Linked DNA regions of Homo sapiens: region 1 is linked to region 2. A link means that fine-mapping ties the variant in region 2 to the expression of a gene that starts in the linked region. Tissue or cell type: esophagus mucosa. Region 2 holds a variant in brackets; the other region holds the start of a gene. All regions are shown on one strand. Distances are from middle to middle.

Region 1 (4,159 bases), 27 kb before region 2:
GGTCTCTTGACTTCAGTGATAGCCCCACCACGCAAGTACCGAGAGAAAGTTGTTGTGTCTCCAATCTCCAGGGACCCATCCTCTGAGGGAGTTCCAGTCTAGTCAGTAATGATCCTTGAGCCTGAGTAGTTCCCACACCCCATCCTATCTTGCATCTGTGTCCCAGACCTTGCTGCACCTTGTAGAAGGTGGAGGGAGAAAAACCCATCCCAAGGGCCAGGCTGTGCTCACTTCCAGTGGAGGCTTGGGCCCTGCACCTGGAATTGGAATGGGATTGGCTTACCCCGCACGTGGATAGACCGGGGATCACAGTCGTTGAGCTCAACCATTCCCTCAATTCCCGAGAAAGTCACCAAGTCTCCATCACGGAAGTAGTGGGTATTGGCCCCTTTCCTCAGAGTGAGAATGCCAGGGGAGCCCTGGGTAGGAGGAGGCTTGGCTCAGGGTTGCCTGGACCTGCCTTCCACAGGCCCTGGCAGCCTCTCCTTGGTCAGCAGGTGAATGCCTACAGCTCAGCACCCACCTGGGAGATGTGCTGGATGGCAGCTGTCAGGGGTTCTGCCTCTGTGGGGTCCTGCACAGTGAAGTCCTCACCAAAGTCACAGAACAACTGCCTGAGATGGGGTGGTAGGGGTCACTGAGGTGGCTTACAGATTGTACTTAAGGATAGGGGATACTAGGGCAGGGCCAGAGGGCCAGAATTGGGAAAGGAATGCAAGGAGAGGCTTGGGAACTAGAATTTGAGAGGGTTACTGGAGCAGGTCTGGAGGCTAGGTTGGAGGAACCAGAGGGCAGGACTGGGGACCAGAATCAGAAAGGCATGCTGGGATAGACCTGAGGCTGGTTGGAGGGGCACTGGAGCAAGCCTGGAGCTGAGGACAGCATGAGGCCAGTTGCTGGCTGTAATATGGTAGGCTGGGCAGGCAGTCTTACTCACCCCACGAGGCCCCGGGTGTCAGCCGCCAGAAAGCAAACTCCATGCTTATGACACAAGGTGCCCACCTTCAGCTGCTCCTCCAGCTTTGCAGCAGTCAGCACCACCACCTGGGTGGACACAGTGATCAGCAGGGCCAAAACCATTGCCCAGCCCTTCCTGCTCTTGAGGGCTGCAGGCCTGAGCTGACCTGGAAGTCCAACAGCAGGTCCTCAGTGATGTCACCCGTGTGCACGACGACCTGGACAGCTCTGTTGAGCTGAGCCAAGAGCTCTTGAGAGGCCTCGGCTCTGCTCCTTTCCAAGTCCTGCTCTGAGAGGAGAAACTAGGGAGAGAGCCAGTGCAGCCTGAGCAAAGACACTCCTCTTGGGCCGTGCCCCCACCTTGGTCTGGCAGCCCATAGCCCCCCAGGACACTTACCTGGGCAGCCAGGTCGGACCAGCAGGTGGGGTGGGGATCATGCAGAGTGAGGCTGCCCACACCCATCAGAACCAAGTTCTTGGCCACCTCGGCCCCCAGGCCCTGCAGGCCTGACACCAGGACCCTGGCTCCCTGAATCCTCTGCATGGCAGGTGAGCCCAGCACATACCTGTGGATGGGAAGCAGAAGGCAAGCAGTTGTAGATCAAGGTCTGAAGACCATCCCACTCTCCACCCCCCACCTCGGGCCTCACAGCTGTCTTGAATACAGCTCCTCATCCAGTAGCTTCGAAGCGTCCAGGGCATCCATCCTCAAACCTGGGGCTGAACAGTAGGCTGCAGCGCTCAGAGATAGGGTCTTTGTGTAGGTGGCGGTGACAGTAGGGGCCAGTGCCCTGCTGTAGCCAGTGCAAACAGGAACCAAGGCCAAGCGAATAAGGGACGCTGCTGGTCACAGCTCTCTTCCTGGAGAAAAGAAAAGTGAAAGTTAAACTATGCTCTGAGCTGGCTCCTGATCCTGCCTCCAGACGCCAGCCCCAGACAGGCCATTCAGGGTCTAAAACCTGGGATGAGTTCCAGGACTCTCAAGAGGTGATCAGTCTCTGAGTGTCAGACCTGAGGGTGGGAGGCATGGGGCAGCCACATTCACACATGTTCTTATTTTCCTTTTAGACTTTTATTTTGAAATAATTATAGACTCATAAGAAGTTGCAAAAAAAATAGTGCAGAGAGGTCCTGTGTCTCCTTTTGCCTTCTTAGGAACCTGGGGCCAGTTCTCTGGGAGATGGACCACTGTTTGTCACGAAACTACGTAATAGCCAAACCAAGTGCTGTCTTAAGTTCTTTTTTGTTGTTGTTGTTAATTTAGGTGAAATTCATGTAACATAAAGTTAACAATTTTAAAGTGTACAATTCAGTGGCATTTAGTGCATCCACAGTGTTGTTCAACCATCACGTCTATCTAGTTCCAAAATATTTCATCACCCACAACGAACATACCAAACACATTCAATAATTACCATACATGTGGCCGGGCATGGTGGCTCACACCTGTAATCCTAGCACTTTGGGAGGCCAAGGCGGGTGGACCACCTGAGGTCTGGAGTTCAAGACCAGCCTGACCAACATGGTGAAACCCCATCTCTACTAAAAGTACAAAAATTAGCCAGGCATGGTGGTGCATGCCTACATGTAATCCCAGCTACTCGGGAGGCTGAGGCAGAAGAATTGCTTGAATTCGGGAGATGGAGGTTGCAGTGAGCTGAGATCGAGCCACTGCGCTCCAGCCTGGGCAACAGAGTGAGACTCAGTCTCAAAAAAAAAAAAAAAAAAAAAAAGAATTGCAAAATGTGACCTCTTATGTCTATTTCCTTTCACTTAGAATGTTTTCAATGTTCATAGAGTTTATAGCCTGTATCAATATTTCATTCCTTTTAATGGCTGAATAATAGTCCATTATATGTATATACCACAATTCGTTTATCCATTCATCTGTTGATGGACATCTGGGTTATTTCTAACTTTTGGATTTGTGAATAGTGCTGCTATGTCCTTTTTTTTTTTTTTTTCTTTTTGAGACAGTCTCACTCGGTTGCCCAGGCTGGACTGCAGTGGCACAATCACAGCTCACTGCAGCCTCGATCTCCTGGGGTCAAGTGATCCGGCTGCCTCAACCTCCCAAGTAGCTGGGACTAGAGGTGTGCACCACCATACCCTGTTAAAGTGGTTTTTGTTTGTTTGTTTGTTTTTGAGACAGGGTCTCACTCTGGTTGCCTAGGCTGGAGTGCAGTGGTGTGATCATGGCTCACTGCAGCCTCAGTGTCTTGGGCTCAAGCAATCCTCCCACCACAGCCTCCTGAGTAGCTGGGACCACAGGCATGCACCACCACATCTGGCTAATTTTTCTTTTTTTTTTTTTTTTGAGACGGAGGCTTGCTCTGTCACCCAGGCTGGAATGCAATGGCACAATCTTGGTTCACTGCAACCTCCGCCTCCTGGATTCAAATGATTCTTCCGACCCAGCCTCCTGAGTAGCTGGGATTACAGACACTGCCATCATGCCCGGCTAACTTTTGTATTTTTGTAGAGATGGGGTTTCACCATGTTGGCCAGGCTGGTCTTGAACTCCTGACATCAGGTGATCCCCCCGCCTTGGCCTCCCAGAGTGCAATTTTTCTTTTTTTACTTTTAGTAGAGACGGGGTTTTGATATGTTGCCTAGGCTGGTCTCGAATCTCTGGACTCAAGCAATCTGCCCACCTCAGCCTCCCAAAGTGCTGGGACTACAGGCGTGAGCCACCGCACCTGGCTTTGGCTAATTTCCTAATTAATTACTTGCTTTTGTAGAGATTGGGGGTGGGTATTGCTATCTTGCCCAGGCTGGTCTCGAATGCCTGGCCTCAAGTGATCCTCCCACCTTGCCCTCCCAAAGTGCTGGGATTACAGGTGTGAGCCACCATGCCCAGCCTGATTCTTGAACAAGTACTATGTTGCCCAGGCTGGTCTCAAAATCCTGGGGTCAAGTGCCTCGGCCTCCTAAAGTGCTGGGATTACAGGTGTAAGCCACAGCGCCTGGGCTTTCAGCTTTTTTGGGCATATACACAGGAGTAGAGTTGCTGGGTCATATGGTAATTCTGTGTTTGTTTATTATTTATTTATTTATTTTGAGACAGGATATCACTCTGTCACCCAGGCTGGAGTGCAGTGGCGCAATCTGGGCTCACTGCAGCCTCAAACTCCCTTCCAGGCTCAAGTGATCTTTCTGTCTTAGCCTCCCAGGTAGCTGGGACTACAGGCATGCGCCACCA
Region 2 (4,159 bases):
GCACATTGGGAGGCCGAGGCAGGTGGCTCACGAGGTCAGGAGATCGAGACCATCCTGGCCAACATGGTGAAACCCCGTCTCTACTAAAATACAAAAAATTAGCCAGGCGTGGTGGTGCGCGCCTGTAATCCCAGCTACTCAGGAGGCTGAGGCAGGAGAATTGTTTGAATCCAGGAGGCAGAGATTGCAGTGAGCCGAGATAGTGCCACTGCACTCCAGCCTGGCAACAGAGTAAGACTCCATTAAAAAAAGAAAAAGGAAAAAAAAAAAAAAGACTGGGGCCACTGACAGGAGTTGTGTGCTTTCTGTCTGGGTCCTTGCTGGGGACTTTTGGCAGGCAGGAGGTAGCCTTGAGGATGCTCTCAGCTAGTCTGCTTCTGTGAAACTCTCAGGAGCAGAAATGGATGCCCATGCTTGCAGGGACACCAATCCTTCTGCCTCGTGGCTCCCTCTGCTGGCAGCTTTAAAGCACGCACTCCTGGCACTAAGGGAATTATTTTACAGTGGTTTCATATTTGTTTCAAAATCTGGGGTGGACAGATAAATGTGGGGAGCTACTCCATAAACAGGATGCCCCAAGACAGTCAGTGCTTCTGCCCTATTCTCAGACCACTTCTAGGTCCTCTGGCCTTCTCTGGCCTCTCCGTGTCAGAGCCTAATTTGCTTCAAGGCTGCTTGCCAGCTAAATCTTGGCTGGCTCCCAGGGCAGGCTGTCTGCAGACATCAGGTCCACAGAGGTCACCCACCCCACCAAAGCCAGGAGGAGTAAAGACTGTTACCAGAAAGCTCTCCCACCTTGTGACCCCTGTACCGCCCAAGGCTCAACAAACCTCTCTAAAACCAGGCGGTCGACAGTCTCACTGGCCACTGGTGGCAGGTTCAAGGTTTCCTGCAGCATCGTTAGCTTCTTTTTCAGGCTCTTGGGGAGGGAAAGAAAAGTGTGTGAGAGAAAGGCTGAGGCATCAAGTCCGGAGATAATGCAGAGGACATGAGCAGCATGCATGAAAGGCCAGCCCACTGGGAACAGAGCAAGGCCTGATACCTCATCATTAGGCTCAGGAGGCCAAGCCCCAGGTAGAGCCCCTCCTCTGATAAGGGACCTCAGGGATGTAAGTGCAGGACAGACTATGAGGGAAGACTCATGGTTCTGTCTGCCCTCTGTTGAGGAGGCCCAGGCTCCAGTCCGGACCAGGGCCAAGGGGCACACCCTGACCCAGGAGGATGCAGGGGCCCAGAACCACCACTGACTGGTGCAAGGGTCCTGGGCAGAGATAGCCCAGCCCTGCTCTGGGAGGGCACACAAACCACCCCTCATTCCTGTCAAGCCAGGGATGTCCCTCACCATGATTTCCTTGTCAGCACTCTGTAAGTCCTTCTGGGCTGACTTCAGTTCTAACTTGGCCTGATCCAATTCAGAGTAGACTGTCTGCAACTATAAGAAAGTGTAGGGAATGAAAGACAAGCCAAGTGGTAGCCTTGTGCCCTGCCCCCTCCTGCTGCTCCCCAGGGAGTGATCAAGGTAGCCCAGAAGAGACTAGAGATATGGGCAGAGATCCCAGCTCTCTGAGGCTAGGCCTCAGTCTGGCAATGCACATCCGGAGCTGCCTAGAAGCAAAGGCTGCTTCCTACATCCTGCAGCCTGTGGATGCACCATGCCAGAAGTAAAAGCAGCTGTGCTGACCGAATCAGGTTCCAGGAGCCCT[T/C]CTACTCCAGATGTGGTACAAAAATAGGCCTCTGATGCTGTCACATTTGAGGCCTGTGCTCTCCAGCCAGCTGAGAGGTACCCAGGAGCCAGGAAGAGCAGAGGGGAGCATCAGTGTCCACATGTTGGGGGATACCTCTGTGATCTGTCCACCCCTAGTGGACAAGCCACATATTCAGGCCAATGCCCAGTAAGGACTGGTAACAAATTTCTGTAAGTCCTCCAGCTGCCCCAGGGAGTCAGCTGTGCCATCAGGTCCCATGGCCTTGCTCAGGAGACCAGAGTGAACATGACAAAAGGAGAGCCACTTCTCCTTCAACCTCTGTTCACTGCTAAGTTACCTTGCTTCTGGAGGAAAACAAATCCTTCCTCAGCTTGTCAGCCACCTCCCCTGAGGCCTTCCGTGCCTCTTTTAGATTCTCGTACTCTCTGCAATGTGGCCATGGAAAGAGATGCCAGAAAAGAACACCTGCAGGTCAGACTGAGCCACAGCACTAATCTAACACAAAGCACTGCCCAACCCCTCAACTCACTCTCATTCCTACTTTGACACCTGAGCCCAACAAGTACCAGGTGGCACTGTGGAGGGTCCTGCAGAGAATGCAAGGAAGTGACTATTTCCTCCTGCCTGTCCTGCAGGCACTGGTGACTTGAGAGGGCATGCAGAAAGCCCCAGTCTCACTAGGGGGCTCCCTAAACCACCTGGTCTTAAAGGAGGCATCTTGGACCCTCTATGCCTCTCAGCTAAGTGGCCCTCCACCCTTCCTGCCAACCTTACACCCACCAGAGTGAAGAATATGAGTAGAGTTTGATCCCAGCCAGGCAGGATCATAGTGCTAATGGGGAACAGGCTCTACATATCAATCACAATGGGGCTTATAGCCCAGAGAGCTAGGTCAACTCCCTTAGAAACAGCACTTAAGATTCACACTAAATCCTCAACAATCCTATGAGGCAGGTCTACTACTATTTCCATTCAGGAAGTTGAGGGTCAAAGAGGCCAAGAAACTGGCAGCAGGCCACATAGTTGCTGAAAGGTGGAATCAGGGTTCAAACAAAGGCAGCATGGCTCCAGAGTTTGCCCCTTAGTTCCATCTGCTTTACAAGAGATGGGGAGCAATGACACGGCTGGGGCCCCATGGCCTATCTCCTGTGTTTGCTGAGAGGGGCCACAGTACGCACTTCTTGAGAGACACACAGTACACAGCCAGCTGTTCCACCGCTGACTGTCCCACACCCATGTCTCGGATCATCTCCTCCACCTCAGGGCGCTGGCTCTGGAGTAGAAGCTCAATCCTGAAAAATACACCCAGCCCACGGCATTTGCAATCTGGAGGCTGATGGGTAGGTACCCAGTGCCGCTCTGCCTTCCTTTGCTGCCGTTGCTAAGGTAACAGGCTAGGCTGCCAGGATGCTTTAGTAGGTGGGTGTGCCCAAGGAAAGGCCCTGTGGCAGAGATGAGCATAGCTCCAAGGATGCTGCTGAGAAAGAAGAGGTGCTGAAAGAGGGTCTCAAGGTCAGGGATTTCCTGGAGAGAGGTTTCTGGAAGGAAAGACCCACCAGGTCATCTGGCCACAGGCAGCAGAGACAGGGAGGAATGTGGCAAGGGCTCCCATTCCTTGGAATGGGGGAAGAGTTCATAGAGGCTAAGATCTGTGCCCACACCCAGCTGACCTGAGCCCTCCATGGCCTATGGAGATTTGAGCCTCGGACATGACCCAATCCCACTCCCTGCTGCAGTCCTAAGAACTGTACCACTTGCAGGCCCTGGGGGCAAAGGCACAGTGCAGGACCCAGCTCCAAACTCACTGCTCCATGGTCTTCATCTTGCTCCTGAGCCGGCGGGCCTCCTCTTGTGCTTGTTTGGTCTCATCCTGCTGCTGCTCTAAGTACTTCATCTGCTTCTGAAGAGCAAATACACCCATACCTGATGCTTGGAGGCCCTCAGGAGCCATTGCTAAAGTCACTAGGAAAACTCTGCTCCAGAACTCTCTGCAGCTTATGTTTTGAAAATGCTGATAACCATGTACTCCCAAACCCCAGGAGGTAAAGCTCCTGGGTCCCACTCTCGCTTGTGCTTCTTCTTCTAAAAGGCTCTAAGCCAGCTGCTTCTTCACCTCCCTGCCTGCTTCCTCCTGAAAGGTATCTTACAGTAGACACAGCCCACTGCCAGCATTTACAGGCCCACTGTGGGCTGCCAAGGTCCAGTGGTCTGGGCCTCATGGTACATGTTGTGCAGGTGGCTGAAGAAGTCCAGAGCACAAACCCAGGCCTCACCATCCAACACCCAGACCCATGGACAGTTGCCAAGAATGAATAATTGAGCCAGGGGAAGCTGGCCAGGCTGCCTTCAGCCTAAGACCACTTGTCTCTGACCTGAGAATACCATGAGAGACTCCTGCTCTGCAGCCAGGTGCCAGTTTGCTCCCTCCCACCAGCCAGACCATGTGATCCAGC

The links. PIP is the estimated chance that this variant, and not a neighbour inherited with it, causes the effect.
Region 1: UBA7 starts here. The variant in region 2 is the best candidate, but not a certain one, in a credible set for the expression of UBA7 in esophagus mucosa (GTEx, PIP 0.64).

The regions. Positions count from the first base shown.
Region 1 is chr3:49,812,125-49,816,283 of GRCh38, forward strand. It overlaps UBA7 (ubiquitin like modifier activating enzyme 7), which reads right to left and starts at 1,829. Exons shown (of 24, transcript NM_003335.3): 1 at 1,608-1,829; 2 at 1,355-1,523; 3 at 1,125-1,259; 4 at 938-1,044; 5 at 524-614; 6 at 284-419; 7 at 1-82. The coding sequence starts at 1,663. RefSeq lists an enhancer at 1,563-1,952.
Region 2 is chr3:49,838,942-49,843,100 of GRCh38, forward strand. TRAIP (TRAF interacting protein) reads right to left here. Exons shown (of 15, transcript NM_005879.3): 6 at 3,512-3,606; 7 at 2,885-2,998; 8 at 2,044-2,131; 9 at 1,343-1,432; 10 at 831-919. Among named protein-coding and RNA genes, the nearest start is that of TRAIP, 16 kb to the right of the region's middle. The variant T/C (reference allele first, on the strand shown) is at 1,704.